2 separate regions of the Homo sapiens genome follow, and region 2 is linked to region 1. Evidence: fine-mapped expression QTL. Tissue or cell type: whole blood. Region 1 holds a variant in brackets; the other region holds the start of a gene. All regions are shown on one strand. Distances are from middle to middle.

Region 1 (8,000 bases):
TTCCTTCTGAAACTACTTGTTCAAATGGTCTACTTTGTTAGAAGTACATTAGGGTCGCATTGTGCTTGGTGTTCAGAGTATAAAGAAATGAAGAACATAGCCCTTGCTATATGATTTAATTTTTTGTTTTGTTTTGTTTTTTGAGACAGTCTCGCTTTGTTGCCCAGACTGAAGTACAGTGGTGCAATTCATAGCTCACTGTAACATTGAGCTCCTGGGCTCAAGCCGTCCTCCTTCCTCAGCCTCTTGAGTAGTTGGGTCTACAGGTGTGTGCCACCATGCCTGGCTGCTTTTTTTTTTATTATTATTTTTTAAAGAGACTAGATCTTGCCCAGTTTGGAGTGCAGTGGCTGTTCAAAGGCCCAATTATAGTGTACTGCAGCCTTGAACTTTTGGGCTCAAGTGATCCTCAGCCTTCTGAGTAACTGGCATGTACCACGGGCTTAGTCTGGGTTGTAATTAGGTATCTGAAGAGAGATAAGTAAATGTTACATGAATTCAGAGGACGCAAGTTTCTTAGGAGTGGATCTTGAATTAGGGCTTCTCAGTTATAATTCTATCCAAGTCGTGCCTACATTTTTATTCATAAACTGTTAACTCTTGTTGGGTTTCTGACTACTAGGAAGATGCTTCTTTTGTATATCCCTTTTTACTTTGGCTTATTCAGGATCCTGTAGCAAGATCATTTGCTTTAAGTAGTTGTAGCAAACAGGATTTATTGAGAGAAAGATATGTAAACTTTGAGCGGGCTGAATCAACAGATTAGTCTGAACTTCTAGAAACAAACCCCTGAATGACACTGCAGAGCTTGCCTGCCAAGGGGGCTACTGCCACCGCAGCACCGAGAACCATGTCGTTGAATCAGAAAGCCGCTACCAGAAGTTTAACTTCCTTGGGTAGGACTGTTGTTTCTGTTCTCTGTATCTTATGCAGGTATGTCTGCTTGCCCATACTTAGGTCATATGTGAAACCTTAGCATTGCCTATATGTAAAACAGGAAGTGCATGTGAGAGCTTTATTGCATTATTGAGTCTGCAGTACATTCAGTTTGTGAGGAACTGAACTCATTTTCCCCAGATTCCCTCACTGTGACGAAGTTAAGCTTTTTCTAAGTTTCCTTTTTCAGTCCAAAGGGATGGGTATTGTTCCAGTTTTCTGAGGTAGAAACTATTGAAAACTGTATCATTTAGATTTTTTTAATGCAGATGTAACAGAAAACCAACTCAAATTCACTGGCTCACAATATTAAAAAGTCCAAAGTTGAGGCTTGATTCAGTTATACTTGTGTGATCAGACTTAATCTTTCTCTTCCTTTATTTAATGAGCTCAGCTTCCGTGGTTTTGGTCCCTTTGTGTTCACATGTTTGTTGCAGCTCAAGCCCTACAACCTCATGCTATCAAGTCCAGAGGAAAATACATAGGACTACTGTACAAAGAAAACTAGTTACATTAAAATGTAGTTATAAAAGTATTTTAAAAAATTGTTGGTAATACCTGTTTCTTTTTTTGAGACAGGTGCTTGATCTGTTGCCTAGGCTGGAGTACAGTGGTGCTAACAAGGCTCACTGCAGCTGAACCTCCTAGGCTCAAGTGATCTTCTCACCTCAGCCTTCTGAGTAGCTGGGACCACAGGTGCGCACCACCACACGCAGCTAATTTTTAAATTTTTTGTAGAGATGAGGTCTCGCCATGTTGCCCAGGCTAGTCTCGAGTTCCTGGGCTCAAGCCATCCTCCTGCCTTGGCCTCCCAAAATGCTGGGATTATAGGCGTGAGCCACCATGCCCACCCTGTTTCTTTATTAAAGAGATTTAGTGAAGGCCGGGCGTGGTGGCTCACGCCTGTAATCCCAGCACTTTAGGAGGCCGAGGTGGGTGGATCACGAGGTCAGGAGACCAGCCTGGTCAAGATGGTGAAACCCCATCTACTAAAAATACAAAAATTAGCTGGGCATGGTGGTGGGTGCCTGTAATCCCAGCTACTTGGTAGGCTGAGGCAGAGAATTGCTTGAACCCGGGAGACGGAGGCTGCAGTGAGCTGAGGTCATGCCACTGCACTCCAGCCTGGGCGACATAAGCGAGACTCCGTCAAAAAAAAAAAAAAAGGAAAAAATATATTTAGTGGGGTCTAATAATTTCCAAGTGGTGATGAGTATTATTACTATTTGGAGGTATCTGTAACGAAAGATCATGTGATAGGAAAATAAATAAACTGTGATTTCTACTGGTGACAAAATGAACAGATATTGCTAATATAATACTATTGTGGTGTTTTGGCTGAATTCACAGTGAAAGGAAATGCTAAATTTCAGTTAGAGGTTAAAGTAAAGATGTAATTTGTTTTTCTCAGTTTAACGACACCCTGAATTCTATATATAAACCCTTGGAGTATGTGTGAACCTCAGCTTAAGAACCACTGCTAGAAGAGTTTCTCTTCCTAGAAGTTCAAGAAATGTATTCTTGTGTCTCATTGACTTTGGGTTATGTTGTCATTTCTGAATGAACCATTAAGGCAAGAGAAATAGGATTTGCTAATTAGTTTAGCCAGCCTGGGCCTACCTCTGGAGCTGGGGGTCATTCCCTCCTAACCAGCATCATGGGAGAGGAAGTGGATTTCCAAGGGAAAATCAAGAAGCAGTGGATGGCAGGATCTGGAAGAATTTGCTAAGTGCCCCTAAATAAAGAGCCAGTAGATACTGAGTAGCAAATAGCATTATGTCCATCCTCTCCCTTTACCTCCATGGTCAACCAGTCATTAAGTTTTAGTGAAACTTTCATTTGCATTTGCCTTTTTGTGTTTAGTCTCTTTGATAATATCTTAAACCTCCAGTGTGGTAGTGTGTGGATTAGTCCATTGGATTGTGGAAAGAAAAATATTGAAACTTCTGTTTATTCTTCTCATCCTACTAGTATTTATATACATTTTATATGTATGTAAAATATATTAGTACATGATATATGTACATACATGTATATATATCACATCATATTTGTGGGTACATGTTAAAAATGTTTTAAAAAATGGGAATGGGAGAACCAGAAAAGTTGAGATAACTATGTAGAGCAGCGCTGTTGAGTAGAAATAGCCCTCTATCTGTGGGTTTATCATCCATGGATCCAACCAACCTCAGATGGAAAATACCTGAGGAAAAAAAATTACATCTGTATTGAACGTGTACAGATTATTTTTTTCTTGTCATGACAGTACAGCATAACTCTTTACATAGCGTTTACATTGTATTAGGTATTTTAAGTAATCTAGAGTTTGTTTAAAGTATGCGGTAGAATGTGCGTAGGTTATATGCAAATACTACACCATTTTATATCAGGAACTTTTTTTTTTTTTTTTTGAGATGGAGTCTCACTCTGTCACCCAGGCTGGAGTGCAGTGGCGCGATCTTGGTTCACTGCAAGCTCCGCCTCCCAGGTTCACACCATTCTCCTGCCTCAGCCTCCCAAGTAGCTGGGACTACAGGTGCCCGCCACCTCGCCCGGCTAATTTTTTGTATTTTTAGTAGAGACGGGGTTTCACCATGTTAGCCAGGATGGTCTCGATCTCCTGACCTCGTGATCCTCCCGCCTCAGCCTTCCGAAGTGCTGGGATTACAGGCGTGAACCACCACGCCCAGCCATATATCAGGAACTTGAGCATCCATGGAGTTTGGTGTCCAAGGGAGGTCCTGGAACCAATCCGCCATGGATACTGAGGGATGACTATAATATGAACCTTGTATGTATGTAATTTACCATTTTCTAGTTAGCCACATTAAAAAAGGAAAAAGAAACAGGTGAAAAATATTTAAAAAATACGTTAACACAATATATCCAGAACATGATTTCACATTGAAATCAATATAAAAATTACTGAAATAGTTTACAGTCTGGTGTGCATTTTAGACTTAAAGCATATCCCTTTGGGCATGGTAGCCCATGCCTGTAGTCCTAGCTGCTTGGGAGGCTGAGGCAGGAGAATCTCTTGAACACAGGAGTTTTAGGTTATGGTGAGCTATGATCGTGCCACTGGACTCCAGCCTGGATGACAGAGTGAGACCCGACTCCT[TA/T]AAAAAAAAAAAAAAAAAAAAGCACATCTCAGTTCAGACTACTAATATTTCAGGTGCCAAAGGCCACATGTGGTTAGTGGCTGCTGTATTGGATAGGACAGATCTAGACCAATGATCATTGTGAATTTAGATTTCTGTAATTGTCTCTATGACGTTTTTTTATAATTCCATATTTGCCCCCTTCAATCTTATACACAGTTGGCAGGTTAGTTGGACAAAAATTCCAGCGGGATGATGTTACTCTCCAAATGAGAACCTGCTCTAGGTTTAGACGTCATAAGATAGTCCCACCCTTCCTCTTCATTTTCTGGGACTCCCTGCAATAAACCTGGTATTCAGGCAGTTTCCTCAGCCTTGCTTTCTCCTTTCATTTCTCCAAATATTACATCTGTTTTACGAAGTCTATTCCCATAAAACCTTGTTGGACTCACCAATCCCTCTGTAACATCCTTACCATTTCCCAAATTTCTATGGTGTATATTGAGTACTTAGCCACTCAGCACGTTGGCATTTCATTGTATACTGTTGCTTGTTGCTCTTTGTTTCACGTGTAATGAGCCTTATCTCCCCTAATAAATTCTAAGCTTCATATATTATCCCTGAATTGTAGGCACATATCGAAGGCTTAGCTTTTCCTTATCTTTAGAAAGGACATAGCTGGGCTATGTAAATTTGTAGCTTTACGTTTTTTTGAAATGAATTGTTTATTCCAGTAAGTTTCATTTTTAAATTTAGCTTTTTTTTTTTTTTTTTTTTTTTTGATACAGAGTCTTATTCTGTTGCCAGGCTGGAGTGCAGTGGCACGATCTCGGCTCTCTGCAATCTCCGCCTCCCGGGTTCAAGCGATTCCCCTGCCTCAGCCTCCCGAGCAGCTGGGACTACAGGCGCATGCCACCATGCCTGGCTAATTTTCTGTATTTTAGTAGACAGGGTTTCTCCATGTTGGCCAAGATGATCTTGATCTCCTTACCTCATGATCCGCCCGCCTCAGCCTCCCAAAGTGCTGGGATTACAGGCCTGAGCCACCGCGCCCCGCCAAATTTAGCTTTTTGACTCTGTGCTTGTGCTTTCAACACTTTCACAATGATTTTCTGCTTCTTGATAAGGAAGGCACCCTTGATCCTGTCATGGATTCATTTAGCACACATTGGACCACGATAGGCCCTGCTGACATGTTTTTTTCATTGTAGACAGCATTATAAGAACTTTAAATCTCACGGCACAAACCCCTCGAAGTCTGTCTGGGCACATGCCACATGCCAATCTTGTGCCTTTCCCAACCTTCTTGGTTGGTAAACAGTTCTATTGCCAGGGGCTTGGGACACCCTATTTCTGTTGAAGGCTGTGTTGTAGGAAAGCTGATGATTGTATGTCATACACTGGACCATTCTGAGTGACTGTAGACAATGTCCCCGGAAAAAAAAGCAGTTGCTGTGTTTTCTACTCTGCTTGTTAACTTAGACACTTTTTAGCAGATTCATTTGTAGGAGTTGGTGTTCATTTGCTTTATGACAATTAAAAAGATTAATTTTGTTCATTGAGTAGTTTATTTGAAACTGTAGAATCATTCTTGGAACTACAGAATAGGGAATTATTGATTAGTTGGAGTTTCTGAAGATGAAATTTGAGTTTCGTAAGGTAGTCTCAAAGGACACTTTTGCTTTATTGTCCAGAAACCAGGAGAGGCAAACTTGTTTCCAAAGTAGGGCAAGAGGTTTTATTTCAAGTTCAGTCATCAGGATTATTCTCTGGAGGTTGTCAGTACTTTTTTACAAACCCTAGTCACTTTAACCCTAGGGAATAGGTTTCTCTTGTTCAGGCTGTCTTCTTTCTTGGATGAAGAGCTCTACCATCGTCACTATATTTTAGCTCATTTGTGGAACGAAGGACTATCAAAATGTTTCCTGAAAATAAGTCCAGGGAGGGCCTTAAGAGCTTTATGCTTTATTGAATCGTCTTTCATTTGACATTTTCTTTGCTGTATTTTACTTAACATAGGCTATGATTAGATTGATAAAAAGCTAAAAAAAAATACACCAACATTTTTAACTTGTGGAATTTCACAGCCGATTTATTACAACCTATTTTATATGCGAGGTAGTATGTTAAGTGTATTAGTTATATTTCCATCACTTTTTCTTTTAGCATAATTTTACAGATATTTATATTCTTTGGCAAATAGCAGTCTGTAAGAATTTATTCTTTTTTTCTTTCTTTTTTTTTTTTTTTGAGACAGTCTCACTCTGTTGCCCAGGCTGGAGTGCAGTGGTGTGATCTCAGCTCACTGCAACCTCCACCCCCTGGGTTCAAGCGATTCTCCTGCCTCAGCCTCCTGAGTAGCTGGGATTACAGGAGCCAACCACCATGCCCGACTAATGTATTTTTAGTAGGGATGGGGTTTCACCATGTTGGTTAGGCTGTTCTTGAACTCCTAACCTCATGATCCGCCTGCTTTGGCCTCCCAAAGTGCTGGGATTACAGGCACGTGAGCCACCATGCCCAGCCAAGAATTTATTCTTTTTATTTAACACTTTGTGTTTTCCCCCCTTTTAGGTAAATATAATAAAATTGGTTATTAAAGTCCAAAAAAATACTAACTTTACTGGAGAGTTCACATTTTTGTTTTATTAGCTGGTAGGAGGTTATAACTTTTCCTAAAATTAAAACGTGACTTTACATTCTAAGACTATGTGTGTGTGTGTGTGTGTGTGTGTGTGTGTCTGTGTGTGTGTGTATGTGTATGTATGTGTATGTATTTTTAGAGGTAGGGTCTCATTCTTTTGCTCAGACTGCAGTGCAGTGGCACGGTCATAGCTTACTGCAGCCTCAGACTCCTGAGCTCAAGCAGTCCTCTTGCCTCAGCCTCTTGAGTAGCTAGGACTTACAAGCATGCACCACCATGCCTAGTGCTAATTGCATGTATTTTTAAGACTGTAGGGTATAAAATTTTTTTACACTTAAAAATTACAGTATATGGGTTGGGTGCGGTGGCTCACGCTTGCAGTCCCAGCACTTTGGAAGGCTGATGCTCATAGATCACCTGAGGTCAGGAGTTCGAGACCAGCCTGACCAACATGGTGAAACCCTGTCTCTACTAAAAATACAAAATTAGCCGGGCGTGGTGGTACATGTCTGTAATCCCAGCTACTCGGGAGGCTGAGGCAGGAGAATCTCTTGAACTCGGAGGTGGAGGTTGCAGTGAGCCGAGGTTGTGCCATTGCACTCCAGCCTGGGCAACAAGAGTGAACCTCTGTCTCCAAAAAAAAAAAAAAAAAAAGTGAATGATTTATTTTCTTCTCTTTTTATTTGATTCAGGGACCTAGCCTCTGGATTTTGAGTGTTTGTGGTTACCTAAAATTTTGTTACTTTTTTTTTTTTTTTTTGAAACAGGGTCTCTGTCACCCAAGCTAGAGTGTAGTGGTGCATTCTTAGCTCACTGCACCTCAACCACCCAGGCTCAAGCAATCTTTCCATCTCATCCTCCTGAGTAGATGGGACTACAGGCATGTGCCACCACGTCCAGCTGATTTTTGTATCTTTTGTAGAGATAGGGTTTCACGCCTTTGCCCAGGCTGGTCTTGAATTCCTGGACTCAAGTGATCCTCCCTCCTCAGCCTCCCAAAATGCTGTGAGAGTGCAGGCTTGAGCACCATATCTGGCCTTACCTTGGTTCTTACTGCAGTTGTCTTGTTTTGTTTTGTGAATCTTTACCATGTTTATCTTGCTTTTAATTGTCCTATTTTAAAATGCAGAGAACATTCTCTCTGGCCAGGTGAGGTTAAAAAAAAAAAAAAACTGCAAAGATCAGTTGTAAAGCTTCTTTCAAGAATTGTTCCGGCCGGGCACAGTGGCTCACGCCTGTAATACCAGCAGTTTGGGAAGCCGAGGTGGGCGGATCACGTGAGTTCAGGAGTTTGAGACCAGCCTGACCAACATGGAGAA
Region 2 (8,260 bases), 150 kb before region 1:
CTGAAGAGTTTTGTGTAGTACTGATGATGCCAAGGTTGCAGTGAGCTAACGTGCATTTTTTCTATCAGCCAAGGGTCTAGAGAGAGCTGGGAGCAGGCAGATTGTGAGTTATTTGCGCAAGAGGGCTATGTGTCCTGGACCATGAAGAAAGGCAGACTTATAGCTTATCTGCCTTTTTTTTTTTTTTTTTTTTTTTAGACAGAATCTCACTCTGTTGCCCAGGCTGGACTACAGGCACCTGCCACCATGCCTGGCTAATTTTTGTATTTTTAGTAGAGATGGGGTTTCACCATGTTGGCCAGGCTGTTCTCGAACTCCTGACCTCAAGCGATCCACCCATCTCTGCCTCCCAAAGTGCTGGGATTACAGGCGTGAGCCACCGCGCCCAGCCTGCTGTCTCTTTTTGCTTTCCCTTGATCCCACCAGCCCAATTCTCCACTTCCCCCAGCCCCCAATTAGGACTCCACAATTCTCCCAACTCCACTTAAGGTGAGAGGTCATGAAGTGCTAGCTCGGTTGCCGGGCCACTTTATGAGGATGGCAGGGAGGGGATTCTGAGAGGAGTGGACAGGAGGTGCCCCATGGGTGTCTATGCTGGCACAGGTCCCTGTTGCAACTCACAGTGTTATTCTTGCCATTCCCACTTTCTCGGATCTTTACAAGCCTGCCCCTACTCCTTATTTAGGTCTCAGCTCAAATACCACCTCCTTGGAGAAATCTCTGCTGACCACACTTGCTGAACTGACAGCCAGCTCCTCCCCTGCCCTTCTCTGATATGGGATGAATTGTGTCCCTCTCTCTTTGCAAAAACATTTATGTCAGTACCATCCGAGCCCCGGATACGTCAGAATGTGACTGTTTTTGGAGATAGGGCCTTTAAGGGGGCAATTAAGTTAAAATGAGGTCTTAATCTAATACGAATGTGTCCTTCTAACAAGAGGAGATTAGGACACAGACAGGCATATAAGAAAGACCATGTGAAGATATAGAGAGACGTAAAAGCCAAGGAGAGAGGCCTCAGAAGAAACCCACCCTTCCAACATCTGATCTTGGACTTCTGGCCTCCAGAATTGGGAGAAAATAAATTTCTGTTATTTAAGTTACTCAGTTCCTGGTGCTTTGTTATGGCAGCCTTAGCAAGCTGGCACACTCTCTATCCCTTTCCCTGGTTTTATACTTCCTCAAGAGGCAGGTTAATGCTGTAGCGTGGTTAAGAGCGTAGCCCTGGGTGTGGCTGCAATAAGGGCAGTAGTAGTGGCAGCAGCCACTTCCTGTCTATAGACAGAAGTGACTGGTGGGAATGTGGGTTTGGTGATGGCTAGTGCTGAAGACAGGCCTGGGTTAGGCTTGAAGGACAAACAAGGAAGGTTAGGCTGAGGTGGCCAGGGCTGAGGTTGGGCTGGAGAAGGGGTTTTGCACCTGCGGTGGCACCTGGGACACCTCTTCTCCCTGATGCTGTTGGCCTGCCCATCCAAGGCAGGAGGGGCTAGCTCCCTTCTAAGCAGGTTCTGGCTCTCACTCTGTCCCAGGGGGCTCTAGTTGCAACCCAGGTGGTAAGACCTTGTAAACCATCATTGGGCACATTACTGCCACCAACCCTATTTCATTTGTTGACCAGGTTTTGGTGAGCCTGTTCATTCAGCAAGCTAGAAGGGGTGGATTTTGCAAAATAGTTGAGGCATATATTAGGCCCCCACTAAAGGCCTTGGATATGAGTAAGTACATATAGATAACTGGGACTAGAAACAGCAGACAGCCACAGTCATTTCGTTCTGAAACTGGAAATTACTTTGTCTTCAAGGCATAAATGGTTCCCCAGAACACTCAGCCTCTCTTTCAGTCCCTAAGTCTGCCAGCCACCCAGATTCCAGTTGTTGGCACCAGAAAGACCAAGTGCCCTGAGGCCTGACTCAACTCTTCACTTGTCACCCAGATGTGTTAACACCATGTAGACACAGAATTGCCAAACTTGCCTGGGCTGCCCAGGGTCCAAATGTGAAAACTGGAAAGCAGCCGCTTTGCTCTTTTCTGGCTGTTCCTGTATTCTGCTGTCTACACGACTTAATACCAAGATTTTTGTTTATATTTCATAGGAACTTCAGCTTTTGTGAGACATTCTTTCCCTATCTGGCCCACTGTAGTGCTAATTTCTGGGAAATTTCTCTCCTCTTTTCTGGCTTGTTCCAGGTTCACTCACTTTTTATATTTTCATAATTCTTCTATTCTCCTCTCTTTTTCCTTTCTCTCTGGTTCTATTTTCCTATTTAAAAGGTGACTTTAAAAAACTGGCTTTGCTGCCGGGCGCAGTGGCTCACGCCTGTAATCCCAGCACTTTGGGAGGCTGAGGTGGGCAGATCACCTGAGGTAGGGAGTTTGAGACTAGCCTGACCAACGTGGAGAAACCCCATCTCTACTAAAAATTGGCCAGGGTGGTGGTGCATGCCTGTAATCCCAGCTACTGGGGAGGCTGAGGCAGGAGGAGAATCACTTGAACCTGGGAGTGGAGGTTGCGGTGAGCCGAGCAAAACTCCGTCTCAAAAAAATAAAATAAATAAATAAATAATCGGCTCTGCTTTCTTCTCCAATTACTGTCTTTCTTTCTCTTTTCTGCTTATCCTTAAAGACTTTCCCTTTTTGTTCTCATCTTCATCTCCTACTCTCTTCTGGCTCTAACTGAAGTTCTCACGCAGCTTCCCTCCTGACCTTCTGGACAGCCACCTGCTTTCCCAAGTTTCCTCCTTTCCCTCCTGTGGAGATGCCTCTCTTAGAATCCTTGCTTTTATCAGCGGCTTACAATCTCTGCATCCGTAGAAACCAGACAGCCTTTTTGTTTGAGGGCTAACACTTGCCTTGTCCCTATTTCAAATAACACAGTGAGCTGTACATAGAAGTTACTCAATGATATCTTAATTGATTTTATTGGGTTCCTTTTTACGCTTATCTTAGAAAAGGGATGTGACTTTGGATTGGGTAATAAAGAGCCGTTTATTGCATGTGTACAAATTATAAATTCCCAGGCACACCCTGATCATAGCAGGATCCTTTTGTTAGCTTTATGGGGCATGAAGTTGGCACCAAAGTATTCATGGGGATGTACAAGTAAGGAAGGGAAGCCAAAAGCATGTCTGATCATACAATCAGGTGTAAGCAAGCCCCCTAAGTAGCCAGGGCATGAACTTTGTCTATCTCTGAAATGACCAGAAGAAAAGGCAAGAGTGTGATTCATCCCTTGCCTCCACAGCAATTCATTTGGCTATCTACTTTTCTTATTACCAATGGCTAACCCTCTAAGGGTACCACTCCTGGCCATGAGGCCTCATGACTCAAAGTCTTAAGATTTATAGCATTTTCCCTGGAGACCAAGGGCATTCCTTTGGGTGATACCTTTTTACTACCCAGAGGTTAGTCATTTACTATGGGTGATCCATTCAAATAAATTGGTTGCCAGGCTACCTCTTCAGATAAGAGTTCAAACTTGCATAAATAATCCCCAGCCACACTGTGACTTCTATGTGCAAGCCTAGAGGGGACGATGTTGCAGGAACCGTGCCAACCACTAAGACACTTTCAAGTTTATCCTAGAGAATGCCAAGACAGCTTCTCAATTCCATCAAGTGAGTCCTTCACAGGAACATTTCCCTAAGTTGAAAAACTGCAGGAAATAATTTATCTTTATGTTATTAATTGGTTACTATAAGGGCTACAGGAATTATTTAGGAACCAGATGATACCTGGTTTTCTCCATAGTTTACATAAGCCAGTCCCTGCAAAGATTCTTCCCCTACCCCCCTTAATTTTTTTTTTTTTCCTCAGAGATCCTTGTTCCAACCTGCAAGGATTCTTTGGCCTGGTGCTTTTCCAGGTAAAGTGTAAGAGCCAGGATTTCTGGATTTTGTTCCTAGACATGAGTGAGCTTGGATAAGTAAATCATTTTCTCTTTTAGTCTGTTTGGGCTTCTGTAACAAAATATCATAAACTGGGTAGCTTATAGGCAATATACATTTATTTCCCACAGTTCTGAAGGTCGGGAAATCCAAGATCCAGGCCAGCAGATTTGATGTCTGGTGAGGGCCTGCTTTCTGGTTCACAGAGGGAGCCTTCTGGCTGTGTCTTCACAAGGTGGAAGTGGCAAGGGGTCTCTCTCCGGCCTCTTTTATTAGGGCACCAATCTCATTCATAAGGACCCTGCCCCTATGACCTAATCACTTCCCAAGGCCTCCACTTCCTAATACATCACCGTGAGGGTTAGGATTTCAACATATGAACTTTGGCGGGATATAAACATTCAGACTATAGCACCCTGACAGTAAAAATGAGATAATAATACTTATCTCTTTCTTCCAACAAAAAGATAAGGTGAAGTTAAAAGGAGGGTATATATATATATAATGTGAATTTCCTGTGTAAAATGTGTTAAAGAGTTGTCTGATTAATTGCTTTATAAGGGAATTGCTTTGAGACTAGGCCTATTGATCTAGAATAAGTAGTCAATTTGTAGTCAGTTCCCTAGGGAATAGACATTGAAAAGATTTTTGGTTTTGTATTCTACAAATAAAGCAACCTATTAATTGAATTCCTCTCAGCGAATTCTTCACTCAGGTGATTCTGGAGAGGGCGGGGGACAGACGCGGCCGCAGCCCAGGTCCCGGGAGCGCCACGGAACCTAACGGTGGCAGCGGAGGTCGCGCCCCTCAGTGCCCGCGCTCTCCCCGTCGGGAGCTTCCTGGTCGCCCCTGCGGCGGCGGCTCGGGGTGTCTGGCCGGCGCGGGGCTCGCCCAGCCTGGTCCGGGGAGAGGACTGGCTGGGCAGGGGCGCCGCCCCGCCTCGGGAGAGGCGGGCCGGGCGGGGCTGGGAGTATTTGAGGCTCGGAGCCACCGCCCCGCCGGCGCCCGCAGCACCTCCTCGCCAGCAGCCGTCCGGAGCCAGCCAACGAGCGGTGAGCTGCGCGGGGCGCGGGGGACGCGGCTCCGGCCGGGCAGGGGAGAGGGCGCCCGGGCGCTGCTTGGGGCGCGGTCCGGAGAGGGTTCGGCTCCCCGGGACCGGGCCGGGGCGCGCGCGGAGAGCCCCACAGCCTGTGCTCTGCCCTCCAGGAGCGGGGCGGCGGGCAGCGATCTGGGCCCGGGGCAGTCGCCTTTGATTATCGAGGGCGCTGGCGTTCGGGGAAGGTTGGCAGCACCTTACGAGACCCACACACGTCCCCGGGGCGGCACGGGCCACCTTCTGCGGAGCCTCGTGGGCTTCGCCGCCGTCGCACCTCCGCCGCCTGCGCTCTGCGGCCCCAGAGTAAGCCCCATCCGGTGACGAGCCGCAGTCTGGTCACCCCAGTCCCACCAGGTCCCGCTGCGAGGGGAGGCGGAGGGGCTCGCTCAGCAAACCAGACGGCCGCTCCAGTTTCTCTAATTGGGGTTGGAGCCCCGTCACCCTTCCCCAGATCACGGCCGCGGGGGAGCGAAGGGACTTCCCAGGACTGCATAGGGCGCCTCCCGGGACCCACAGCTTGGCTGGCCCGGCCCCTTTTGAGCATCAGCTGAGGCTGGACTTGGAGGAGATCTCGCTGTGGAGCGCGAATGAGTTCTTCCACCGGGACCAGCTGCGGCCGGGCTGCAGCCGCTGTCTGGTTGCTGATCCCACAGAAAATGGTGCTTGCCCCATGGCCTGAGTGGGCATGACCCGGCTTTGCAAAGACTGCAAACTCTAAGCTTTTCCGAATCAAATGCCCCTCCCTGCCCAGACTGTCTGTGCCCAGGAAATGGTGGGTGTGGCAAAATGTTGGTCCTAGCGTGCAGAGCCCTACCGGGGGGCTTTCACAACATGTTTGAGAGTTTATTCTGAATTATCGGGTGCTCAAATAGAAACACTAAAACGATTGCCCTCTGAGCAGTAGGCGTTCAGGTCCAGGGAGTCGGGGACGCATGGTGGAGGCTGGGACTTAGGTTTCAGCCTTACCCTTCAAGTTCGCCATGCGGGTTCCAGAGACTGCGGAATGTTTGTAAAGTGACTCTGGGAATTGGGTTGCTGCGCAATGAGGACACCTGGACCTCAGTGACTCAGGCTGTCTCTAGGATTCTGGGGAAGAAATGGGAGAAGGCTCAGTTAATTCTGAAGAAAATGAGACTGATACAATTAACTACTTGGGCACAGGGCCTGAGAAGAAAAAGCTTTCGTCAGCTTCCAAAGTTCTGATTTGTTTACCTAAGGTTTTTTTTTTTTTTGAGACGCAGTTTCGCTCTTGTTGCCCAGGCTGGAGTGCAACGGCACTATCTCGGCTCACCGCAACCTCTGCCTACCGGGTTCAAGCGATTCTCCTGCCTCAGCCTCCCGAGTAGCTGGGATTACAGGCATGCGCCACCATGCCCGGCTAATTTTGTATTTTTCGTGGTGGTGGTGGTGGGGGGGGGGGGGTCCCTCCATGTTGGTCAGGCTGGTCTCGAACCCCCGACCTCAGGTGACCCGCCTGCCTCGGCCTCCTAAAGTGCTGGGATTATAGGCGTGGGCCACTGCGCCTGGCCTACCTCAAGTTTATAAACATTTCATACTAGGAAATTGTGTGTTTCCATAAAAGGTAAAGTTGAATAATGATCATTTACTTTTCTACAACAATAGTCTCCCTTTTAGACATTGACTCTCAATCCTTAGGGTAGGGTCTCTCATTCTAAAGATGATCATACCCCATCCTTGATCTTTGGGGGACTTAAGCAACTTCCTAAATTCATAATATTTAGAGGTGATGTTTAAAATCAGCACTTAGTCCAGATTCTGGGGAGAAGTTTGATGATGGTCCTTGAATATTTAGCACTTAGAAGTGCTAGGAGGATGCCTCACTAAGTTACGTAAGAAGCAGAAGAGGACGAGTACCGCCTGATGGATTGACCCCGAAAACTAGCTGTGTCCAAGTAGAATAGGTGTCTCGCTCTGTTAAGCGGTCTTTAAACTATGATAGTTCGCTGTACTACAAATATGCATAGGTGCTTTACAAAGACTTTTCACTTAGTGAGGTCAAGAGGCTAATGCTGGTCTCATGTATAATTTAGGTACCTTTTTACATAGAACCCTCATTAGCCAGACTCTAAACCTTAACTGCAGCCAAGACCTTTGTTCATGTAGTATGCCTTCAGAATCTCGTGTTGACCTTAAATGCCAAGTGGCTTGTAAACTTATGTACTTGATACTTGTGGTAACTGATCTCAAACATAGCTCTTCTTTCCTGTGATCGTTTGGGACACAGGCTCCCACTCAAGGGTAGCTCCTTGTGTCTGGTGCCTGAACTGGATCTTCTCATTAAATTCTGAGTGGGTAACTTAAGAACCAGTCTAGGCTGTGCTTGCTGTATACTTCCAGTTCGCTATTGACCAAGTGTCATGTGTTCTCTTTTGAACTGTTCAGCTTTTCCGTAGGGGGGAAGATCAGTCATGAGAAGCAGAAAGTAACTCTACCTTCCTTGATGCCAGGGAGCTATGATGAGAAAGAAATCCTAGGAAAGGACCAGTTCCCCTTATTCCAACTTAGCATCACTGAATTTGTCTTTGGCAAATGGGCTTTCCTCAAGTCCTGCTCTGTGTTTCAGCAAGGACAGGAAGTAGACTGCCTCTTGTGTTACTTGAGGAGCAGTGTAGGGCAGTGCCTAGGGGCTCAGGAAGTAGTCTTCTTCTGTGACGGTTGCGCACAGGTCAGGGACCTTTATGAGCAGACATTTCAGAAGTGTTCCTGGGAACCCAGACAACTGGACTGATTGCTGGGTGGGCCTAGAATAGCATAGTGCAGCGGATAGCTACTCTTTGTTAAAGGGAAAAGCTACCAATTAACAGCCGATTAAAATGGTCTGTATTCTAACTCATGTTTAAATTCCTTATTCTGAAGCTACACTGAACTGCTTACTGTAGGTGTTTACAAATGTGGAGACCCAGCTAGTATTTCTCTACTTTTAGTTTATTTTTTGAAGTTTTTTTTTTTTCCCCTCTGACTGTTCAAAATTCTCTGATCCTGGAAACACCAGGGTGGGGTTCACATATCTATAGTGTCTGTAGAGTGGGAAGATTTGTGACATTTGATTGTATGTCTCTCTCTGTAAACTACTCATCTGAAAAGAAAAAAGAAAAAAATTTCAGGCAAGTAAGGATGATACTTATCTGAATAGATGTCTTTTTTGTTTTCCTGAAAGTTTTGAGGTTAATAATCTTGATTTCAAAAGAGCATCAGTTATAATGCTTTTCTTTTCTTTTTCTTGAGATGGAGCCTCGCAGTCTCCCAGGCTGGAGTGCAG

Evidence for each region. PIP is the estimated chance that this variant, and not a neighbour inherited with it, causes the effect.
Region 2: LGALS3 starts here. The variant in region 1 is fine-mapped to the expression of LGALS3 in whole blood (INTERVAL, PIP above 0.99).

Annotation. Positions count from the first base shown.
Region 1 is chr14:55,277,198-55,285,197 of GRCh38, forward strand. All of the region lies in intron 1 of FBXO34 (F-box protein 34), which reads left to right. It also overlaps the pseudogene RPL34P28. Among named protein-coding and RNA genes, the nearest start is that of FBXO34-AS1, 9.1 kb to the left of the region's middle. RefSeq lists an enhancer at 2,414-2,513. The variant TA/T (reference allele first, on the strand shown) is at 4,058.
Region 2 is chr14:55,124,365-55,132,624 of GRCh38, forward strand. LGALS3 (galectin 3) reads left to right here and starts at 4,888. Exons shown (of 6, transcript NM_002306.4): 1 at 4,888-4,936. It overlaps LOC124903319, which reads left to right. Exons shown (of 3, transcript XM_047432036.1): 3 at 686-1,103. The coding sequence ends at 740. RefSeq lists a silencer at 4,584-5,183 and an enhancer at 5,534-5,723.